Linked DNA regions of Homo sapiens: region 2 is linked to region 1. Evidence: fine-mapped expression QTL. A gene starts in region 1. The other region holds a variant in brackets. All regions are shown on one strand. Distances are from middle to middle. Region 1 holds the start of PDE6D (phosphodiesterase 6D). Region 2 holds the start of PTMA (prothymosin alpha).

Evidence for each region. PIP is the estimated chance that this variant, and not a neighbour inherited with it, causes the effect.
Region 2: its variant is fine-mapped to the expression of PDE6D in whole blood (TOPMed, PIP 0.94).

The regions. Positions count from the first base shown.
Region 1 is chr2:231,779,055-231,784,425 of GRCh38, forward strand. PDE6D (phosphodiesterase 6D) reads right to left here and starts at 2,228. Exons shown (of 5, transcript NM_002601.4): 1 at 2,011-2,228. The coding sequence starts at 2,060. It also overlaps a transcript of COPS7B not described here. RefSeq lists enhancers at 1,395-1,474, 2,025-2,254 and silencers at 1,418-1,641, 1,765-1,814.
Region 2 is chr2:231,703,345-231,708,675 of GRCh38, forward strand. It overlaps PTMA (prothymosin alpha), which reads left to right and starts at 5,181. Exons shown (of 5, transcript NM_002823.5): 1 at 5,181-5,331. RefSeq lists enhancers at 3,313-3,951, 4,591-5,228, 5,229-5,331, 5,230-5,289 and a silencer at 4,590-4,989. The variant A/G (reference allele first, on the strand shown) is at 3,160.

The DNA of each region.
Region 1 (5,371 bases):
TAGCATATCTTAACATTCCTGCTTTTCTTTTCTCTCTTACTCCACAAATGCCCAGTAAAGGCTACCAGAGGATGAGCACGCCACTGCTCTCATGCTAACTTTTTGATGTGGCTGCTTCCCTTGTGCTTCAGGATTTAATCAGCTCAGGTCAAGCTTTTCCCAAAAGCCTGTTTCTGGATGCACTAACATCACTGAATCGGTTGATTCGCTTTTCCTTCCAGTGGGCTGACACAGATTCTGCTTTCTGAAACTCTTTTCCGTATTTGTCTCTTATCCTCTTTCTCAACAGGTTCAAGAGCTAAGACTGAAGGTGAGAAGCTCAAACTTTTCTGCTTTGTTCAAAAGCCATTAAAAAGGCCTTTCTTCTTTTCAGCAATACGGTATTTCCAATCAGATGAAAACGTTGCTTCTGAAATCTCTCAATTCTCCAGTTTCCGGTTTACTGTCTACAAAGCATGTTAAGTAGCAATATTATTACATTGTTAGATGTTAATAGTATAAATTATTTGAGGGAAAAATAAAATCCATGTCATAGCTTTTCCAGCACTTCAGTCATCCCTATATACCTATTTGATCCATTATGGAGAGAAACACAGAAAGGCACATGGAGCTATAAAAGAGGCTGCTACTAAACCAAAACATGAAAGTACTGAAAGTTTATCACAGATGGTAGTATGCAAAGGTGATACAGCCTTTAGTTTTTTTAAAAAGCATAGATCAATTTCCATTCGAAAAATCTCACTTGTACATCCAAAACTTCCTTTTTGCACTGTGGTCTAAAATGTATTACCAACTTGGTTTCTGATTATAGCAAAGCAATTAAATTTGCAAGCGTGACATGGACATTGTGAAAACGCAACAGAATACCAAGAAAACAGTGCTTTACTAAACCTCCAAGGGAGGAGCCCTGAAGTGGTGACTACCTTTTCACTGAGGGAGCAATTTAAGAACGTTCGTACTATAGATTACAGATAGGATGCATGAAGAGATTAAAGTTGGCAGGAGAATGGAAAATTTGAATATCCAAGTTTGCATTTTTTCATCTGCATCATATGGTGACAGACTAACACACTCCACGAAAACACAAAGCTTCCTTACGGAGAGGATGCAAAAGGGGCACCACAACAGGCCCGAGGCAATGATTTCTCTACCCCACTCTATCCTACCGTGGCCCCAGCGACATCACACCATTGCTGGACAGCTCCACCACAGCTAGGCATAACCGCACCGACAGGAGCGAGCAAAGACACCTCGGCTAGGAGTCCCAGCGCGAGGCACCCCACACCTAAGCCTATGGTCCTCATCTTGCTGGAAAGAAAACTGAGGCGCTGAGGGGGAAGCAGTGACCAATGCCTGAGAAGGCCAAGAGTGTTAAGACGAGGTCGATCTTGGACTTCTCTTTCCCCACCTCCCCCAACTACTCCAGTCCTGGAAGAAGCCACAAGTTTGGAAGAGAAGTTGTGGAAACCAGACGGGGGTGGGGTGCGGTGCGGTGCGGTGGGGGACCTGAGAGAGTTTTAAAAGCACTGGTATTTGTCCCACACAAGGTCGCCCGCTCCAAGTCACTGTTCCCCGCTCCCCGGGTAGGCTTATAGCCAAAGAGGCTTCTAGGCTTCGAGATCAGCCCACCGCGCCCCCTCAGCCCTTCTCCGCGGGCCGCAGCCCCATCCCGGCCTCTGGGTCCCGGCCGGGGATCGGAACCCAGCCGGCTTCTCCGACAGCGTTTCCGACGCCCGGCACCTCTCGCAGCCCCGTCCCCCAGGCTCCCCCGTCTCCACCCGCCACCCCCCGGCGCTCCCGTCAACGTCCCCTTCCTCCCTCAGGACGCCCCTTGGGGCGCCTCTCGCGCCGGGTCCCGCCGGGTGCTCGGCACGCTGTTCCTTTCCTCTCCCCTCCCGCGGCCCTTCTTCTGTGGGGCCCACCTGGCGCGGCCCCCGCCCCCGGCCAGTCTCCTCAGTGAGCGGCCGCCTCCCAAGTCCTCCCGGCCCCGCCCCGCTCCCGGACGGATACAGTTTGAAGCCCCTCAGGATCTCCCTGGCCCGCTCGTCCTTGGCTGACATGATGCGGCGGTCGCCGCCCGCGGCTTTCTCACTCTGGTCGGCGGAGCCTCGCAGACGGTGCCCAGGAGCCGAGGATGGAGCCGCAGCCCGGCTTGGAGACCTCGGGCTAGCAGCCGCAGCGGCCAGACCAGGACCGGCCTCTCTCTCCCCTCAGCTCCCGCTTCTGATCCCTTCTCCTTCCCCCTAGCCTCGCAGTGCCCTCCTGGAACCAATGGAAAGCCAGCCTTGGCGATTGGCATCTCAACCAGCCAGTAGGAGCGCGCAGCGGCTTCGCAGGGGGACTGTTAACGTCAATGGGAAGGGCCCTCCCCGGGAAGTCCCATAGGACACAATATTCATCTGGTGTTGTTGCCTAGAGTTTGTCCCAGCGGAGGGTTGGCTTCGGATCTGCAGAGGCTTTAGGGACCTGCTCCAGCCACTGAGCACACTAGCCGTCTGAGACGGCAGCTGAGTTGCACTGTGCGACGCGACAGAGACTACATTTCCCAGCATTCCAGCGGCGCACTCGGGGGACCACAGATCCCAGCGCACCACAAAGAGGCCCGGGGACTACAAATCCCAGCATCCCCTGCACTCGGTTCCTCTGTAACTTAGACTCCAGTGTGCCGCGCAGTGTGCGCAAATTCACAAACCCGCCCGCTGAGTTGGTCGTTTCGGAATCCCGAGACTTGAAACCCAACGGGAAGACCCTTCTCACCCTCAAAAGAAGATGACAGCCCGCAGAGAGTTAACTTCTGTTTACATGGAACTCAGACATCTGCAAATCATGGTAAGGCTGCAAACAACAAACAAAAACACTGATTAAACCGTGAAAGAGAACAAAATGACTTCTTCAAATCGTGCTTGTTTGTTGGTCTGAGGCGCCTTTTACATGTATTTCAGGGTTTTTTGCTGTATTCCTGGTTTGCACCGGGAGAGCTATGGATTGTATACTCAGAATATCAAAACATAAAGGGACTTTGCTAATCTATCCCCTGTTGTTACGTATGAGGAAATTGAGGCCCAGAGAGGCGAAGGGATTGGCCACAGATCACAGCAAGTTCGGGCAGAGTTAGAATTCAGCCCTAAGTCGGCTGACTTGCAGTCTGGACTCTTTGCACCACACTAAGGAGGTGATATTTTTAGCAGCATGGCAATGTGAATTATTCTCCTTGAACGGTTTTCCTATCCACTGTTGAAACACCCAGAATTAGGTAGCATTTATTTGGTGGATTTCTTGCGAGTGAGGGAGTGTGATATTTATTTATTTTCAGCCTAGGTAGGATTTGGTGTTTTGTTTTTTGCCACTCAAGGTGACATTTAATGTGATTTCAGGAAGTAGGTAAAATTACAGTGTGAGCCACGGTTTCCTTGGAAACCTCCTCTGTCCTTCTCTTGGCCTTCCTTCCTCTGCCTGTCCCCACTTTCACCCATCTGGGAACTCACCCAATTTTTTCTTCCATGTAATTCAACAAATATCTTTTCAGCCTGTTATTTGTCAGGCACTGAGTGGGTAAAAGGTGAAGGACATGGTCACTGCCACCAGGAAGATGAACATATATTTAGGGAAATAAGGAGACTCCACTGAGATTCAAGATGGAGTGTGATAAAATGGCATAAAGAAATGACATCAGAATGCTAAGGAGGCCCTGATGAAAAGGTTCATTGCAGCTGGCAAAACTTTAATGGACAAGGTGGCATTTGAACTTGAATTTTTTTTCCATGTTAAAAAAGTTTTTTTTTTGTTAATGAGGTGTAACATACAGTATGGGAACAATTTTCACATAGGTATACACCCCTGTCGCCACTACCCAAATCAAGATATAGAACATTTCTAGCACACTTAGTGCTCCCTCCCAATCAGTATTACATCCTTACATATTGAGATAATCACTCTTCTGACTGTATCACCATAGATCAGTTTTCTCTGTTCTTGAATTCCAGTTAAATATAATAATACAGTATGTACAGTATGTGTCTGGCTTTTTTACTTTATCAGTATTTTTGTGAAATTCATCCATGTTGTGTGTAGCCTTTTAATTGCTGAATAGTATTCTGTTGTATGTTTATACCACAATTTATCTTTTCCACTGTTGGCGGGCATTTGGGTTGTTATTTTTTGGACTATTATTAGCAAAGCCGTAGTGAGCATTCTTACATGTTTCTTTTTGTAGACACTTGCACACATTTCTAGGAGAGGAATTGCTAGTGTGTAGGGAGGGTATGCACATGATCAGTGATAGTAGACATTGCCAGTTTTTCAAAATGATTGTACCAATTTACGCCTTTGCCAGCAATATGAGAGAGTTCTAGGTGCCTCTTATCCTTGTCAACACAAGAGTTTTGTTGTCAGTCTTCTTAATTGTAGCCGTTCTGGCTGAATGTGGTATCTCATTAAGGTATTTATTTGCATTTTTCCTGATGTTGAGCACCTTTCAATGTGCTTGTTGGCTAGTTGAACGTCCTCTTTCGTGAAGTGCCTGTTCTTTTCCCAACTTTTAAAAATTGGGCTGTCTTCTTATTGATTTGTAGTTCTTTACAGTCTGGATATGGAGTTCTTTGATATATGCTTTGCAGATATCTTTTCCAAGGCATGGCTTGTCTTTTCACTCTCTTACTGGTGTCTTTTGAAACAAATTATATTTTTGAGGGATGGGGTCTCTGCTGTGTTGCCCAGGCTGGAATGCAGTGGCTATTCACAGGCACCAGCATTGCCCACTGCAACCTCGAACTCCTGGGATCAAGTGATCCTCCTGCCTCTGCCTCGCAAGTAGCTATAGTAAGACTATAGGTGTACTCCACTGCATCTGACAAGCAGAAATTCTTAATTTTAACACAGTGCAATAGTTCCGTGCTTTTTATTATGGTTAGTGTTTTTTGCATTGGATTTCAGAAATCTTTGCTTTTAGAGTTGGCAGGTTTTTTACAGGCTGATAGAAGAGCATTCCAAAAAAGAGCAAGCTTGAGCATAGGTGTGGTGTCTGAGAGGGAGGGTGTAAGTTGTGCCGGGCATGGGAGTTTGGACTGAGAAGGGGGAGGGGGTGGGGTGCGACAAAGCTGGAGTTAGGAGGGAGGCACACTTTGAAGGGCTTTCAGTGCAGCCACTGCCTGGGCGTGGTGGCTCACGCCTGTAATCTCAGCACTCTGGGAGCCAAGGTGGGAGGATCACTTGAGATCAGGGAAGACCAGCTTGAGCAACATAGTGAGACCCCATCTTTAAAAAAAAAAAAAGGAATAAATTTGCCGGGTGTGGTGGCACGCACCTCTAGTCCTAGCTACTTGGGAGGTGGAGGTGGTAGGATCCCTTGAGCCCAGAAGTTCAAGGCTGAGGT
Region 2 (5,331 bases), 76 kb before region 1:
CTGGATTATAGGCGTGCACCACCATACCCAGCTAATTTTTTGTATTTTTAGTAGAGATGGGGTTTTACTATGTTGGCCAGGCTGGTCTTGAACTCCTGATCTCGTGATCCGCCCGCCTCAGCCTCCCAAAGTGCTGGGATTACAGGCGTGAGCCACAGCGCCTGGCCTATTTTTTATTTTTTAAGACAGAGTCTTGCTGTGTTGCCCAGGCTGGAGTACAGTGACACCATCATGGCTCACTGCAGCCTCAACCTCCTGGACTCAAACAATCCACTCACCTCAGCCTTCTGAGTAGCTGGGACTACAGGCACATGCCACCATGCCCGGCTAATTTTTAAAAAATTTTTAGAGTCGATGTTTCGTCATGTTGCCGAGACTGGTCTCCAACTCCGGAGCTCAAGCAATCCTCCTGCTTAGGCCTCCCAAAGTGCTGGGGATAGAGGTGTGAGCCACCACACCTGGCCGTCCTCTCTGTTTCTTAGAGGAGAGAAAGTAACTTGCCCAATTCACAAAGCTAGTGTATGTCAGGGCTGCCATTTGAACCCAGGCAGCTTAAAAATTCATTCTGCCTGATCTTTTGGGGATCAAGCAGATTTGTGAGATAACCAATTAGAAATATGTTGTAAATGGCTTTAGGAGCAGGCTTAGTTGCAAACTGAAGTGCCCACAGGGCCAGGCAGATGAAATCAATGTGTTACTCAGGCTGGGCGGGGAGAGGCCTGTGGGCCATGTGGACAGTGTGTAGACCACCCAGAGGTGTCCCTGTGAAAATTCCCCCAAAACAAGCCAGGCACAGTAGCAAGCATCTGTTGTCCCAGCTACTCAGGAGGCTGAGGTGCGAGGATAGCTTGAGCTCAGGAGTTGGAGTTCAGCTTGGGCAACATAGCAAGACCCCATCTCAAAACAAAACAAAACATGCCTGGAGGACATATTGGGTCCCTTGCTCACAGCAGCTCTAGCCGAAGCCCACTGTATCTCAGGCTGGGGTCAGGAAAGCAGGCTTACCAGGGCACACCAGCTTGTCTTGGGGGGTTTGAAGGGCAAGGTCACCAAAGTGCCTGACTTCCTCTGTAATAACAAAGGGCATGAGATGTATCAATGAGTGGAAGTGACAGAGGACAGGAAGAATAGTCTGTTCAGAAACAGCAAAAGAGGGCCGGTGTGGTGGCTCATGCCTGTAATCCCAGCACTTTGGGAGGCTGAGGCGGGCGGATCACTTGAGGTCAGGAGTTTGAGACCACCCTGGCCAACATGGTGAAACCCCGTCTCTACTAAAAATACAAAAATTAGCTGGGCATGGTAGCAGGTACCTGTAATCCTGGCTTCTCAGGAGGCTGAGGGAGGCAGGAGAATCACTTGAACCCACGAGGCGGAGGTTGCAGTGAGCCAAGATCATGCCAATGCACCCCAGCCTGGGCAACAGAGTGAAACTTCGTCTCAAAAAAAAAAAAGCCTGGCACGGTGGCTCACGCCTGTCATCCCAGCACTTTGGGAGGCCGAGGTGGGCGGATCATGAGGTCAGGAGTTTGAGACCAGCCTGGACAATATGGTGAAACCCCGTCTGTACTAAAAATACAAAAATAGTAAACCCCATCTGTACTAAAAATACAAAAATTGGCCAGGCATGGTGGTGCACGCCTGTAGTCCCAGCTACTCGGGAGGCTGAGGCAGAAGAATCCCTTGAACCCGGGAGGCGGAGGTTGTGGTGAGCTGAGATCACGCCACTGCACTCCAGCCTGGGCTGAACAGAGTGAGACTCTGTCTCAAAAAAAAAAAAAAAAAAAAGAAACAGCAAAAGAGGTAGGGAGCTACCTGTTGCTGAAGGAACACGGTTCTTCATAGCCTAAATAACTCCCCCACTATGAGCTGTCAGATACCACACTCCTGGGATGAGAGGGAGGTCCATGGGGGCAACTTCTGCCCCAGGGCTCATCTAAAAATGCAGATTCCTCTGTTTTAGGACTTAGCCTCGGCTCCATCATTGATCCAGTGGGTAACTCCAAGTCCCTTGCTATAATCTCTAGGTTTGCTTTTTTGATTTGTTAAAAGGAGGGTTATATCAGAAGTTGAACCTGTAAATGTGTTGATTTTCAGTTCGTTTTCACCTACATAGACATCAGTTTCATATGGTTCAACTCCATAACTGTCCTACCCACCTTGTACATGAAAATGAAGCATGAGTCAAAGGCTCACTGCCATGTACACAGCGGGCATTCAGTGAGTGTTTGGGAAATTTAAGTGGTGGTTCTGGAACCAGATGGGCATGAGCCTTCCTCACCCACTTCTAGCAAAGGCACCTGCATGGGAATAACGTCAGAAAACAGTTCTTTTTTTGTTTTTTTTTTTGAGATGGAGTCTCACTCTGTTGCCCAGGCTGGAGTGCAATGGCGTGATCTCAGCTCCTGCAACCTCTGCCTCCCGGATTCAAGCGATTCTCCTGTCTCAGCCTCCCGAGTAGCTGGGATTACAGGCGCACGCCACCAGGCCCGGCTAATTTTTGTATTTTTAGTAGAGACGGGGGTTTCACTATGTTGGTCAGGCTGGTCTCGAACTCCTGACCTCGTGATCCACTCACCTCGGCATCCACCCACCTCAGCCTCCCAAAGTGCTGGAATTACAAGCGTGAGCCACCGCGCCCGGCCAGGCAAAGCAGTTCTTAGAGGGAAATTCACATTCATCAGTTCCTTCTGGGTGTTTGACCTTCCCGCTCCCACAACAGCCTGAATCCAGAACTGTCAAGTCTGGTTTTCAGCTATGGACACAGTCCACTGCCCGAAGGCCACCATCCAGACGACGGGGAAGCCTTGATGGCCTTTCCGGAGCCACTGCCCGAAGGCCACCACCCAGACGAGGGGGAAGCCTCGATGCTTAGAGATGGTACAAGCCAGGCTCTCATTGCATCTGGGTTTCGTGGAAAAAACAATCCTCTCGAGGGTAACTGGAACTTAATGGATGCGCCGCAGGTGGAAGGCGCTCTGTCCCCCTGTTTACGATGACGCATAATCCCTCCAACTCTCTGAGAATGTGACACAAAGGAGGGGGTCACGGTGGCTGAGGTCAAGGAGCCCTTCCTCTGTGAAGGGCGGCCCCAGGTCTGCGCGGCGGTGAAGACAGACTGGCAGTGGGAGGGAGGGAACCCGACAAAGAGTTGAGACGCGT[A/G]GTCCTCGGGAACAGCACTGTGGAAGTCCCCCGGATTGAGGCGCGCCCGTCCAGTGGAGAATGCCACCTCCAGCCACTGGGGCGCCTGGGGGCAGGGCGGAGACACAGCGGGCGTCCCTTCGCCGCTGCATAGGAGGGCGACCGCTGGGCAGCGGGTGTTGGCGCGGTATCCCCGCCCTGCCCAGCATCTGCCCCACGTTTCTTCAGGCTAAACTACCGGGATCCCGGGCTTCTTCCTAAAGTAAAACTCGCTCCGGAAAGGCCAACAGTCCAGCGGCCAGACGGGCACCTGGGAACGCGGGCCTAACGCGTACTGGAGACGGAGTGGCGCCCGGCACTGCGCGCCTCCTCCCCGCCGGGAGACTGCGTGCTAAGCTCAGCAAAGCCCCGCTGTGGAGACGGAGCCATGTCGCCCATTACCTAATGAAACTGAGAAGGGAGACTCAGTCTCTCTTCTAGCCCCGAGCGCAAGCTCTGCTGGACTTGGCATCGTCCGCCCTCCACGATCCCACACTCCGGGTTTTCCCCATTCCCAGCTCGGCTGCAACCGAGAGACAGACGGAAGAAACTGCCAATGGAAGGACGCAAAGCGTCAACTTTGTGTTCGCCCGCCACTCTCGGCCAATGTGCGCTCGTGTCTCCGGAGTCCCGCCTTCCGTGTCGGGCGCCCCCTTTTGGCAGCACAGGGACGAACCCTACGTCTCGCCATCTTGTGTGTGGCACAGGTAAATTTCTGGACTATCTTTCCACCTATTCTGGTCCTTTTTCCCACACAACCGATTTCTTAGTTCGACAGCTAAGTGCGGTGGCGATAAGGCCAGCGTAGCCTGTTGTTCTCGGATCGCCCACGTGAGCTAGATCGCTACGTCACGCCACGCTTGCCGAGCCCGGCGCCATCTTGAGTGTGGCGTTTTGATGCTCCCCTTTCTCGGGGCTCCGCATGGTTCTCTAAATGGTCCCCCAAATTTCAGGTAGTCCCCAAAGATTAGCCCAACTGGCTCCAGAGACGATGATTTTTCCCGAGGAACTCTGTAATGTTCATGTGCCCATCGCAGTCCAGCAGTGGGGTGGGAGAAGGGTAGACTCGATGGCCCGGCAGGCCCCTGGAGGAGGCTGCCCTGAGGCTGTCGCGACGGCAGTGACCGCTCGGGACAGACCCTAACTAGAAACCTAGAATGAGGGGACCGCTATGCCGTGCGGGGCCCGCGGGCTGTCCCACTCGAGGGCTGGAGCCGGCATCGCGCATCGAGTCCGCTTGATACATGAATCCGTGTGTGCTTGGGACGGTGCCCGCTTGTCGACTGACTTGGCCGACGGACGCCGGACCTGATGGTGGGCAATCGAGGTCGCCTGCCCACAGGACTAGGGGTGCCCTGCCCTGGGAGGGCGCGAGGGCATGGCAGAGGGACGGGGCGGCCCAGGTGCCCGGGTCTCGGCCTCGTGACCTCGTTGCTCGTCGTGGGGCTGCCGTCCACTTGCACTGGGACAATCCTTGGTCCAAGGCGCCCAGGCGCGGGGGGCGGGCACCTCCGCGGGCACTGCGCTGGGCACCGCCCGGGGCGAGCGCGGCCCAGCACCCCGCCTTCCCCTCCCCCGCGCTGGCAGCCGTCGTGTGCCCGCCGCCCCCTCTTCCCTCCCCCTCCTTCCGAGCAGCCGCGGGGAGGGCGGGAGAGGGAGGGAAGGGGGTTGGGCGGGCAGCTTTGCCGCGCTTTGGCTTTCTGCGTCAGCAGCCCCAGCAAAACAGCTGCGGGAGCGCGCGTCCGGAACGCGCTCGCGCACCCCTCCCCCGCGCCCTCGGCCCTGCTGAGACCCGGCAAACTCCGGCCTTGAATGACAGTGCGATCGGCGACTGCGCAGCGCGGGACGCGCCGGGGCACTGCCGCTTTAAGCACGCTTGTCCATTGTTCGGAATCGAGCCAATGAGCGAGCGCCCGCTCCCTGCGCTCAGCCAATAGCGGCCGGGCATGGGAAGCCGAGCGCCGCCCACTAATCTATATTAAAGCTTCTGGCGCCGCGTGAGTCCCCCACTGGCTGCTCTGAAAAGCCATCTTTGCATTGTTCCTCATCCGCCTCCTTGCTCGCCGCAGCCGCCTCCGCCGCGCGCCTCCTCCGCCGCCGCGGACTCCGGCAGCTTTATCGCCAGAGTCCCTGAACTCTCGCTTTCTTTTTAAT